Linked DNA regions of Homo sapiens. The protein of the gene in region 2 purifies or fractionates together with the protein of the main gene of each other region. This does not show direct contact. Each region holds a gene or a part of one and is shown on either strand. Other genes may lie near its edges. The genes, in order: LANCL1, CYRIB and PDC.

Region 1 (3,655 bases), on a different chromosome or scaffold from region 2:
ATATTTATACATATGTATATTTATGCTTATGTGTACATAAAATCTAGGAATACACACAAAAAAATGGTAACCATGGTGATTTCTGAGGAGAACTAGAAGGCTGGGAGACTGAGGAGATGGAGACCTGACTGACACCTCTTGTACTATTAATATTTGCATGTATTGGCCAGTTGCAGTGGCTCACACCTATAATCCCAGCACTTTGGGAGGCTGAGGCAGGCTGATCACCTGAGGTCGGGAATTGGAGACCAGCGTGACCAACATGGAGAAACCCCGTCTCTACTAAAAATACAAAATTAGCCAGGTGTGGTGGTGTGTACCTATAATCCCATCCCCTCGCGAGGCTGAGGTAGGAGAATCACTTAAACCTGGGAGGCGGAGGTTGCGGTGAGCCGAGATCACGCCATTGCACTCCAGCCTGGGCAAGAAGAGCGAAACTGTCTCAAAAAAAAAAAAAAATGTACATGTATTATTGACTGTGATAGATGAAACCTACTTCAAGTAGGCCTGGTGACACATTAAGAAATAAACCAAGGAAGGAGATGATGGGCCATTTGAGTGTTGGCTTAGTCCTTTCTCTGGGCTAAATGCCCTAAAAGCCAGCAGTTCTTGGCTTCTTTGACCCCAACTGCTAAAATACTCACCTTAGGGCCTGCCTCCATGAGGAACTAGGGAGATTTCAGATAGCCTCAGCCATACATTTGTATTCTTTCATTTTATGAATGTATTTGTCAGTTCCATTGTTAAGTGAAGAAATTTAATGGAGGGCTAATCTGTGAACCGTGACTGTTCTATAAATAGATATTATATATGTATAAATACATATTTTGTGTGCATGTATATTTTTTTCAATGTACCATTTTTAAGTATACACCAATACCTGGTTCCTTTCAAATTATTTGGGGCATGTATTTTTATTTTTAGGCTAATTCACCTAAATAAGATTGATCCTCATGCTCCAAATGAAATGCTCTATGGGCGAATAGGCTACATCTATGCTCTTCTTTTTGTCAATAAGAACTTTGGAGTGGAAAAGATTCCTCAAAGCCATATTCAGCAGGTACCACGTTTTTGTGTTTTTAGGAGCCTTTTTAGGATCCCATTTACTTACTATCTGCCTAAACTATTGTTTATGTCTCTGTAGTTAGCACATTCCATATAAAGGAAGGTGTATCTGGACCTCTAAAGGTTGGGCACAGTCCAAGAACCAATAGCTTTCTACGGAGTGCTGTTGGAAACATTTCTGTCTCAAGAGTCCGAAGGCCAGTCTGCTCCATTTCAGAATTTAGAGGCCCTCTCCAAAGAGGATTAGAGCCAAATTTCACCTCCCAGATGGAGGATCTCCTTTGGTGGTGCCTAGAGGAGTTTATGCTTTTCTTTGACAGGCGAACTCTTGTAAACTGTAATGCAAAGAGCTCAAGATCCTCTACGCCCTCCCCCTTCTAGGCTAAATACAGTCCCACACACTTCTCTGATGGAGAATTAAACTGTGCCTTTCCCTGGCTATAAGCTGGTGTCTAATTTGTCATGTTCCCCAGTACCTCTTAGCAAAAAAGTCTTTACCTCCTCCAGGAAGATTTTTGTTCAGTTAACTTGTTATTTTGGTTGGTTTTCTCCCTGTAGATTTGTGAAACAATTTTAACCTCTGGAGAAAACCTAGCTAGGAAGAGAAACTTCACGGCAAAGTCTCCACTGATGTATGAATGGTACCAGGAATATTATGTAGGGGCTGCTCATGGCCTGGCTGGAATTTATTACTACCTGATGCAGGTAAGGAGTGATTATGGTGAAATTTTAAAATGTCCTTCCTGACCCATGTACTATCATGGGTGAGAAAACAGATATTCTAGTTCTAGTTTGTCATTCTGTCAACCACTGCATTACAGTACTCTCCTTGTAATTACTTGTCCTAGACAAACAAAAGTAATGTTTACGAAGGTGCCTTTAAAAGTGTATAAACATTAAAGGCCCTGCGTTTTAAAATGATGTTTGATTTGCAGGTGATCGTGCTTGCCCACTTAGTGCCACTTGTGCAGACTAAAGTGTTTTGACTTATAATTCTGTATGAAGTGCCTCTGCTCTGCTCTTTCAGCCAGTGCTTTGAATTAAAACTATTATTCCACATTAAAAGGTACAACTGATTCCAACAAATTCCAGGAATAAGAACAAAATCAATAGAAAACAAATGAGCACTTGTTGCCTAATGCTCACTTAGAGAGCAAAGCTGAGGAGACTTCTACTTACCTGAAAAACAGCTGAATATGCTCTGCCCTACAGTTCTTGGGATCTAATACTATTGGGGCACATCAACCAAAGTCAAATAGACTAAAGACAGATAGAATTTACTGCAGCAGACATAACTTGGGAGAGATCAGAAGAGGACTTCTCAGGAGAGCATCATTTTGGGAGACTTACGAAGCTCTCCTTAAGGAGAAACTGGCACTTCTGAATAAGAATTCATGGCAAAGAAAATTGATTTTTAATGGCAGCAGAGGTACCCCTGTCACCTTCCCAAGGCACACTGTGGCATAAAGAAAAGTGTTTCATTAACGTGTTCAGCAGGAGTGCTTGGATATACATACTACCAGCTCTTTGAGTAGCTGGCTCTTATAATACAAGATCAGTGTTGGACCTGCCCTCTACCTATAAATAAACAAGGACAACAGAACTGAAAAACTCAAGATTATTATTATTTTTGAATGCAGAGTCACACATTGAGTGTTAGTGGCAATCAGAGACTAGCGTATTTATTCTACACTTTTCAATTAGAGGTTATATAATTAGGATGTTGACATTTAGACTTAAATTTCTTTATTTTTCTGGTGCATGTCTTCCTCTCTATTCCCAGTAGTAAATGTAGATTCCTAAAAGCTTTCAGGAAAGAAGAGTCTTCTGAAGTTTCAAGGTTAGTTAGAATCAAACATACTAGAGGCCCTCTCCAAAGAGGATTAGACAGCCTTATCGAAATTTCATTGAAACAAATAATCAGGAGACATAGTTGGTTAGTGACTAGACAGCCTCATCAAACTTTCATTGAAACAAATAATCAGGAGACATACTCTGCCTCCTTGTGTTAGCTGTAGTAAGAAATCTGAAAACCCAAGTATTGATTTTTCCATTTGCAGGTTATCATCTCTTTGAAATGATTTAATTTTTAATCCTGAAAGTCTATTCTAGTAGGTACGCCTTCATCAACATAAAATAAAACATCATTATTTTTAGGCCATGTTGGGTAATTCCTGCAAGTTTGAGGAGAGTCCACTCATTCTACTGTAACACTCTGAGCTTAAATGCTATTCTTTGTATGAAATGAAATCTGCCTTCTAAACAACTCAGTCCACTTTCAGAATCTTGTGGAAGTCATATTGTCAGCATTGCTTTGACCCCACCACGACCGCCTCCTGCCTGTGCTTCACACCACTGCCCACCCCTCACCACCACATGCCCCACACCTTGCCTAGTGAAACAGCACTTTGAATCTGTTAAAGACATTAGCAGTCATTGAATTAAGAACAGGACCAAAAGGAGAAACTAAAATGTGTATCAAAAATGGTGGCTCATATGCTGTATGTCAGTATGTCCTATGGATCTGTACGTTGTTATGTCAAAATAATGTGGCATTTAGATCAGTCCTAAATCCTCTGCAAAAAGACTT
Region 2 (3,389 bases):
TTATGGCTTCTCATTGTAGCTTTAACCCTGTTCAGGTTCTGCACAGCCTGTCATCCTCACCCCCTTTCTAACTGAATAGCCAGTAGCTATTTAGCAGCTATTTAACTTAGTTACAACTACACTGCTGAAATGATTGGTTGACCTCTCAAGTAAACAATTAGCTGTAACTTCTCCCTCAGAAGAAAATGCTGTTCTATCCCAGAGGCTGGCAAATTATAGCCCATGGGCCATCCAATCCACCAATTTTTTTGTGGACTGTGAGCTAATTCTATTTTTTAACCTTTTGGATGACTGGGGGGCAAAGGAAGACAAAAAAAGAAATAGTAATATTTCATGTGTTATTGTGGAAATTCTATGAAATTCAAATTTCAGTGCTTACATATAAAAGTTTTACTGAAACACACCAAGTTGACTCATTCATGTATCATCTATGGTTACTTTCTTGTTATGGTGGCAGAGGTGAGGAGCTGTAACAGAAACCATGTGGCCCACAAGGCCTTTAATATCTACTTACTCTCTGGCTCTTTACAGAAAAGTGTTTCAACCCCTTTTCTATTCTGTATTTAAGATGCCTCAATTACTACAGCTGTTATATCTCTAAAATGTCTCAATTCTCCCAAGTGCCTTATTTCTAGGCATGTGTTTTGCTACATGCATGCAAATCCAACATAAGAATCCAAAAAAGAATCACAAAGAGTGATTATTATAAAGATTCACAACAGTATTCCCTTAAACAGTAAAAATCCACTAAGCAAGCTTACTATGTCTCAGGCACTGTTCAAGGAGCTTACAACCTAGCAGACGGAGAAAGATAATGATACACTAATATTAGTGACAGGGTAAAGCCTAGCAGCAAAGGAGAGAAGTATAACAAGAAGAGGCTACATACAGAGACAGGGAAACACCATCTCCCATGGACACCCAGAGGCCATACATAGTAAGGAGTTTGGAGATTATTTTAAGTGCAGTAAAAGCCAGTGGAGCATATTAAGCAGGAGAGGGGTGTGCTGCCACTTAAGTTTTATCATTCTGGCTGTTGAGGGCAAGCTGTGGAGAACAGAAGGAGCAGCAGGGAGGCATTAAATAAGGGGGCTGTTACTGAGCACCAAGTGTGAGATAATCAGATGTCAAGGCTTGGGCCAGATTACAGCAGCAATGGAGACAGGTGTTCAATGCGTGAATGTGGACTGTATTTTGGAGATAACCCAGACAGAGAAATCTGGTTCACAAGAATTCCACATATAATCTTAAGGACTAGATCGTTTTTTCTAGAGATAAGGTCTGGCTATATTACCCCGGTTGGCCTTCAATTCCTGGGCTCAAGCAATCCTCCTGCCTTGGGCTCACAAGTAGCTGGGATGACAGGTGTGTGTCACCATGCCCAGCTAGGACTACATCCTTTTCAGCAGGTCCACATAGATCTTTCTGTGTTTAAGAAATTTAAACCCAATTCCTATTAGGTTCATTTCAAATTAATTTAAAAACCGAAGAATGCTTATTAAGTACCTGATATACTGTCTACAATGTTACTGAGAAGTCACTCCCAAACTGTTCTCATGTTTTTGAATAGGTATCAGCGTGCCTGGCACATAAATGGTGCTCAATAAATACTTGCGGAAGGAAGACAAGATAAGCAGCCAGGTTGGAAAGAAAAAAAAATCCATAAAGGAATATTGACATTAAATGCTAAGTGATGTCACAAGGATTTAACCTTTTTGTTCTCTTTATGTAGATAAAGTATACGCAATTACACGAAATCCTACAGATGTCTCGTAGTTCTCAAAATTCTTCATTTGTTTCTCCTCCACTTCTTTATACAACTAAATAGTAGAAAGAGCCAAGCAATGTGCACAGTAAAATTTCTACTGCAGAGTAGTTAAAAGTATCACTACTCAGCAATGTACTGTACTATTCAAAGAGTGCTAAGTGTTTTCCTCTCTACCCATGACGCAAGTTCTCGCTCCTTCTGTGGGATGTGATCTTGGCTTCCTTCTTTGGACAAAGCCAATCCAGAGCACACTGCATCACCACACTCACTTATCAAGAAAAGGCCAATATTATCTAATATACGTGAAAATAAAACATGAAGATATATGGCATTATTTTCCTTTGTGCACAAAAACAAATTTTTTTTCCAAGTGCGACTGTTTTACTAAAGAAAACCAATTATTATTTACCTTTACTCTTAAATTTAATAAAGAAGACAATTATCTACTACTGAATCTGAACTCCCAGCTCTCTTTTTTTCTTTCCCTCTTATGATTAAATGTATTTGGTTCCATTTTTCCACCTGTAAAATGGACATATGACTTGATGCCTTCTCTTAGTAGCACAGGAAGTTCTATATAAATAATTACTACAGGAAAGCATTCAAAACAAACATATACATACATATGGAACTATTCTCTCATTTAAAATCTTTTGGTCTTTAAGTTCTATTTTGTGGAGGTGTGTAACACTCGTGTAGTACTTTTGGGGTTACAAAATGCTTTCTAAACATGTGCTCTCAGTAAAACATATTAAAGGCTAGATGGATTTCCTTTAAGAAATATTTTTCAAAGTATCAGCATTATCTACATCAGCTAGGGTGTTTGTTTAAAAGGAAAGTGCCTGAGTCCCAAGTCAGACCTGATTTTGTTGTTTCTAAAAGCAACATTTTATTTTCTAGTTTCCATTATCTATTATAATAGGAAAGAAAATGTACCAAACTGACAGGTGACTCTTGCCTCCGTGGTGCTTTCCTTCCCTCCCCTCTCCCTCAAACACAGATTACTTTGTGGGAGACTTCAACCCTGTCTTTCACTCGCCATCACTGGTCTCCTCTGCTTTCATTCTAAGGAAAAGGAAACTGAACTACCCTTAAAGTGAAACGTAGATTCTGAGTTAGGCATACTACCTTCAAGCTCAAGAAAGAATCCTAAAACCTCCTAGATCTCAATTACCTTCAAGTTTTTAAAAAAGATTTCCTGCCACTTGCTGGCTTCAAAGAGCCTGACCAATCAGAAAGACAAAGTCTTGGGAGAAAAATCAGGTTGACTGAGACACAGGGAGTATTCAGAAAGAAACCAAGGAGGAAAGACTCATGATATCATTAAATATTGGCAAAACCACTGAAGTATGCGTTGTAAAAACCCCAAGAATACAGAATTCTAAAAACTAGGCTTATGGTTAAAATAGTTTGACATTATAAGGATTTTAAATTATGTTCCTTAATCTTGCTGATGTTCATTTAGAATAGATCACCTTTATTCAGGCAGCTACCGCTTATGCAACACTTTTCATAATCTTTTAAAAACTATTTTTAAACATTTTTTCATAATCTTAATAAAATCATTTGACAGTTCCGCTTAGCTGAAATGATACAGCCTACATTTTATGTGGTAAATATC
Region 3 (4,444 bases), on a different chromosome or scaffold from region 2:
TGTCCGTAATGACCCCAAATCCCTCCAGTGAACAGGTGCCAGAGATAGCACAAAATAAAAAGCAAATTATGGAAATATCTGTGTTGGGAAGGTGGGGGTAGGATAGGAATTGCTATAGTAATTTTTTTTTTACCGTTAAGTCTCTATGCTTGTGCCTATATTACATATTTGAACATATGAGTACCAAGCTATATTTGACAGTAACTTAAAACATATTTTTTGAATGTTAAAACCACTATGACATTTTTTATCATCAAACTGAAATATTAAATTTCTTCACATTTGCCATCAGAAGGCATCTTTTAAGTTACATTTGTATTGCACCTGACTACATTCTAGATTCTTTAGCTAGAGAGAAAACACTCAGTTCATAAAAACTGAAAGTGAATTGCCCTGAGAAACTCTGTTGAAAAGCATATGTATAGCACACAAACTGGAACATGAAACCTGCTAAATGGGAGGTAAAAATTTGATTTAAGGATGAAAATGAAAGTTAATTTAGAAAATACTTTGATTTCTGGAAGAATCTCTTTGAAAATATTTATGGTTGTGACTCTCTTAAATATTGTAAATTTTATGTACTCTTCTCTATTCTTGAAATCAAATTCTACAATAAAAAATATATAAGCAAACAAAGTTCTGAAATGTGACAGGTTTCCCTCTTACTAACAAAGAGTAAATAAATGACAAATTAATTTAGTATAATAAAACATAACTATTAAAATTTATTTAGACACTATCACTGTTTAAATTGCATTAAGATCCACTTAAAGTTTCTGGGTGAAGCTACATATGACTAAACCTTATAATTTAAAAATCTAAATGTGTTCATTTTAATTGCCATTAATATTAAAAATTTTGTCCTCTTGCTAATTAAAAATTTCCAGTTTTAAGCTTAGAGTAAATTAAATCTCCTACTTTGGCAAAGTTAGATGAGAATTTGGCTGTGAGGATGAAAGATGTTAGGAAAAGATGGAAGATTAAACACATGCATCTACTTCCCCTACATCTCAAAACTCCATTAAAAAACAGCAGGAAAGGAATTTTTAATGGTAAAAACCAGAAACAATAAGGAGAAGTGAAAAGGAGAAAATGCCAATAAAACTAGAATCCAGAAAGCAAGTAGATCTGTAAAGACAGCCCATCTGAAAAAATTGTATTAAAAGCCTGTAGTAAGAGAAGATGAAAATCATAGTATCTCTCTTATTCCTCCCAATGTTGTAGTAATCATAGCACTTCATTGTGATTATCTTTTTACTTACCTGTCTCCCCCACTAGACTGCAAGCCTCACGATATAGGAAATAGGGTTTATTTGTCTTTGTACCCTAGTGCCTAGCTACTGCTTGTTTCACACAAAGTAGGTGCTCAGTAGATGATTATGGGACTAATGAATACAACTCATGTTATTGCGATAAATAGTACTAATAATGACCTCTGTCTCTCATCTATTCAATGTGTTCTGTAAAATATAAACTGACTACTCTTTGTTTGGTTTTGCCTTATTATTAATGAACTGGCCTTGCTAATTCTGTCAATCCTATTACTTGTTCAGAGCTATTTCTGCAAGGGTCATCAATATCTGGAGATTTTAAATCTGAGCTTAAACCTATTGAAGTTCAAGACGAGTTCAGTAGACAGGGATTCTCACCCACTCAACAAGGACACCAGGCACAGAGATCCAAACTGTGAGTCCACAAGTAGTCCTTTTGATAATATAATTTTAAAAATTTTACCTTAGGGGAAAGAATGGTGATTCACTGTTTATGTATTATTGTGTTAATGTAAAATAGTTCAAAGTACATAAGGTTTTGAATTATCTACTATAAAGACAATTAAATACAGCGTATCCTTCTCTCTTTCAGTGATTTCCACCAGTCATCTTCACTAATACAGATTCAGAGTAAACACGCAATTTTGAGCCTGATATTCTAGACTGTTAAAATAAGACCATGAATGGAGAACTCATTTTGCAATTTTAAATTTCCTTTGAGTGAAGGGAGAACTAAAGAGAATAAATGATGAGTCCTTGCACTTTATGTTTGAAGATCTGGCTCCCAAGTTGGAAAAGGAGTGCGGTAGTTGCCCCTTATCCAAGGGGGATATGTTCCAGGACCCCCACTGGATGCCTAAAACCATAGATAAAACTGAACCTTGTGTGTATACTATGTTGTTTTCCTGAACATACATACCTGTGATAAAGTTTAATTTATAAATTAGACACAGTCAGAGGTTAACCATAATCACTAATAATAAAATAGAACCTTTATAACAATATGCTACCATCACAACACTTGCGCTTTGGGACCTTATTAAGTAAATAAGGGTTACTTGAACACAAGCACTGCAATAGTCAATCTGATAACCAAGACAGTAATGCATATGGTGTGGATATGGTATACAAAGAGATGTTTCATGTTCCAGGCCAGAGAGAGCAGGATAGTGTGAGATTTCATCAAGCTACTCAGTACACTGCAAATCTAAAACTTGCAAATTGTTTATCTCTGGAATTTTTCATCTAATATTTTTGGACCAAGGTTGACCAAGGGTAACTGTAATCACAGAAAGAAAAACCTCAGATAAGTGAGGACTGCTGTATTCATCCGGCGCTAAGGCATGTTTTGAGGCTTTTCCTTAGTAGTATGTTGTTGTGGCGGTGGTTTGTTGGTGGTTTTTAATTTTTAAAGTAGAAATAATGTTTGTTTTGAAAGGTTACTTTAGAAATTTAATGAAACAGAAATAATGTTTTTAAAAGAAAAGAACACAGAGTTTGTTGATATTTCTTAAATTCAGTGAAAATTTTCTTTCAATTGGTTTTTTTTTTTCTATTTTGTTTCCATGGAGGTTATTATTATTACTAATAAACCTTACAGTTTGCATCATGAAAATGAGTGCAGTAATTGATTTGCAATGGAGTATTTTTATTAACTGCAAAAATAGCTTCTAACTATAGAGTCCATTTTAAATATATATATATATATATATATATATATACACACACACACATATTGTCCATTGTACCTGCTACTTAGAATCACCTCATATTAAAGCTAGAAAAAACTTTAGAGATCATCTAATTCATCATGACAATTTCTGCCCAAATACTATGTTTATAAGTGGATTTGATATTATATAAGTCATTATCAAAATATATATGAACCATTCATAATAATGTCTGTAATGGAATTCAAACAATATGTACAGGAATATGTATATTTACAAGATAAACAGATACTTTAAAAAAGATGGCTGTTATGAATTTCTAAAATTCTATTTTCTCCAGAACAAGTAAAAGAATATCTGTATGTCTGCAATCCCGGCACCTCGGGAGGCCAAGGCTGGCGGATCACTCGCGGTTAGGGGCTGGAGACCCGGCCAACACAGCGAAACCCCGTCTCCACCAAAACCAGTCAGGCGTGGCGGCGCGTGCCTGCAATCGCAGGCACTCGGCAGGCTTAGAGCTTGTTAAAGATTCCTGGGTCCCACTTCAGATCTGCAAAGCAGGATCTTAGAATCTAGGGCCTGAAAAGGAGGAAGGGTCCTGGTAAATATCCCCAGGCTTTCTTTTTCTTTTTTTCTTTTTTTGAGTTGGAGTCTCATTCTGTCCCCCAGGCTGGAGTGCAGTGGCGAGATGTCGGCTCACTGCAACCTGCGCCTCCCAGGTTCAAGCGATTCTCCTGCGTCAGCCTCCGGAGTATCTGGGACTACAGGCACCCACCACCACGCCCGGTTAATTTTTGTACTTTTTGTAGAGATGGGGTTTTGCCATGTTGCCCAGGCTGGTCTTGAATTCCTGCGCTCAAGTGATCCACCTGCCTTGGCCTCTCAAAGCGTTGGGATTACAGGCGTGAGCCACCGCGCGCAGCCTCTCCAGGCTTTCAGCTGGGACCATGAAGGGCTCCACTCTTTGTGGTGATGATCAGAGGGGCGTATGCCCTCCATAACACTCCCATTCTTCATCTTTTCTCATATTCCAGGAGACTGGCCCAAACAGGACTGTTGAGTGGCTCTAAGGCTTTTAGACGTCAAAAGGGTTTATAAGAATAATCATCATAATATAGTTATGAATCAGAAACATGCATACATTTTCTTAAATGACCCTGTGGGGACTGGAGTTAAAAAGGGAGGAGTACCCAGATGCAGGCGTCTAGCAGAATGGACTTGCTTGAGAATATCAAGCAAGACAGCCAAAGAGGACTCCTAGGATTGTCTCACCAGGACTTCTGAGGCGACTCTAATGAAATGACTTAAAAGTGTGGTGGAGTGGCTTCTGTGGCTCCCACACCTGCCTAATCCTGGTTGATATTGCACAACCAGCGTGCACTGACAATCTCTGGGAAAAAAGCAAGGTCTAATATTCAAAGCTTGGCAAACATGACCAAGACTTTTTCTCTTTCCTTTGAATTATTTTAGTTCCCTAATTTTTTGTCCCAGATGCCACTTAAT

Evidence for each region.
Region 1: the proteins of CYRIB (region 2) and LANCL1 purify together in Homo sapiens (affinity purification with western blotting; one study listed by BioGRID). This does not show direct contact.
Region 3: the proteins of CYRIB (region 2) and PDC purify together in Homo sapiens (affinity purification with mass spectrometry; one large-scale study listed by BioGRID and IntAct). This does not show direct contact.

Annotation. Positions count from the first base shown.
Region 1 is NC_000002.12:210,438,713-210,442,367, reverse strand, and holds part of LANCL1 (glutathione S-transferase LANCL1), read left to right. Parts: intron 1-924; coding exon 925-1,060; intron 1,061-1,623; coding exon 1,624-1,770; intron 1,771-3,655. UniProt on the Homo sapiens protein: Functions as a glutathione transferase. Catalyzes conjugation of the glutathione (GSH) to artificial substrates 1-chloro-2,4-dinitrobenzene (CDNB) and p-nitrophenyl acetate.
Region 2 is NC_000008.11:129,842,315-129,845,703, forward strand, and holds part of CYRIB (CYFIP-related Rac1 interactor B), read right to left. Parts: intron 1-3,389. UniProt on the Homo sapiens protein: Negatively regulates RAC1 signaling and RAC1-driven cytoskeletal remodeling. Regulates chemotaxis, cell migration and epithelial polarization by controlling the polarity, plasticity, duration and extent of protrusions.
Region 3 is NC_000001.11:186,458,301-186,462,744, reverse strand, and holds the start of PDC (phosducin), read left to right. Parts: upstream 1-1,630; 5' UTR 1,631-1,686; intron 1,687-4,444. UniProt on the Homo sapiens protein: May participate in the regulation of visual phototransduction or in the integration of photoreceptor metabolism. Inhibits the transcriptional activation activity of the cone-rod homeobox CRX.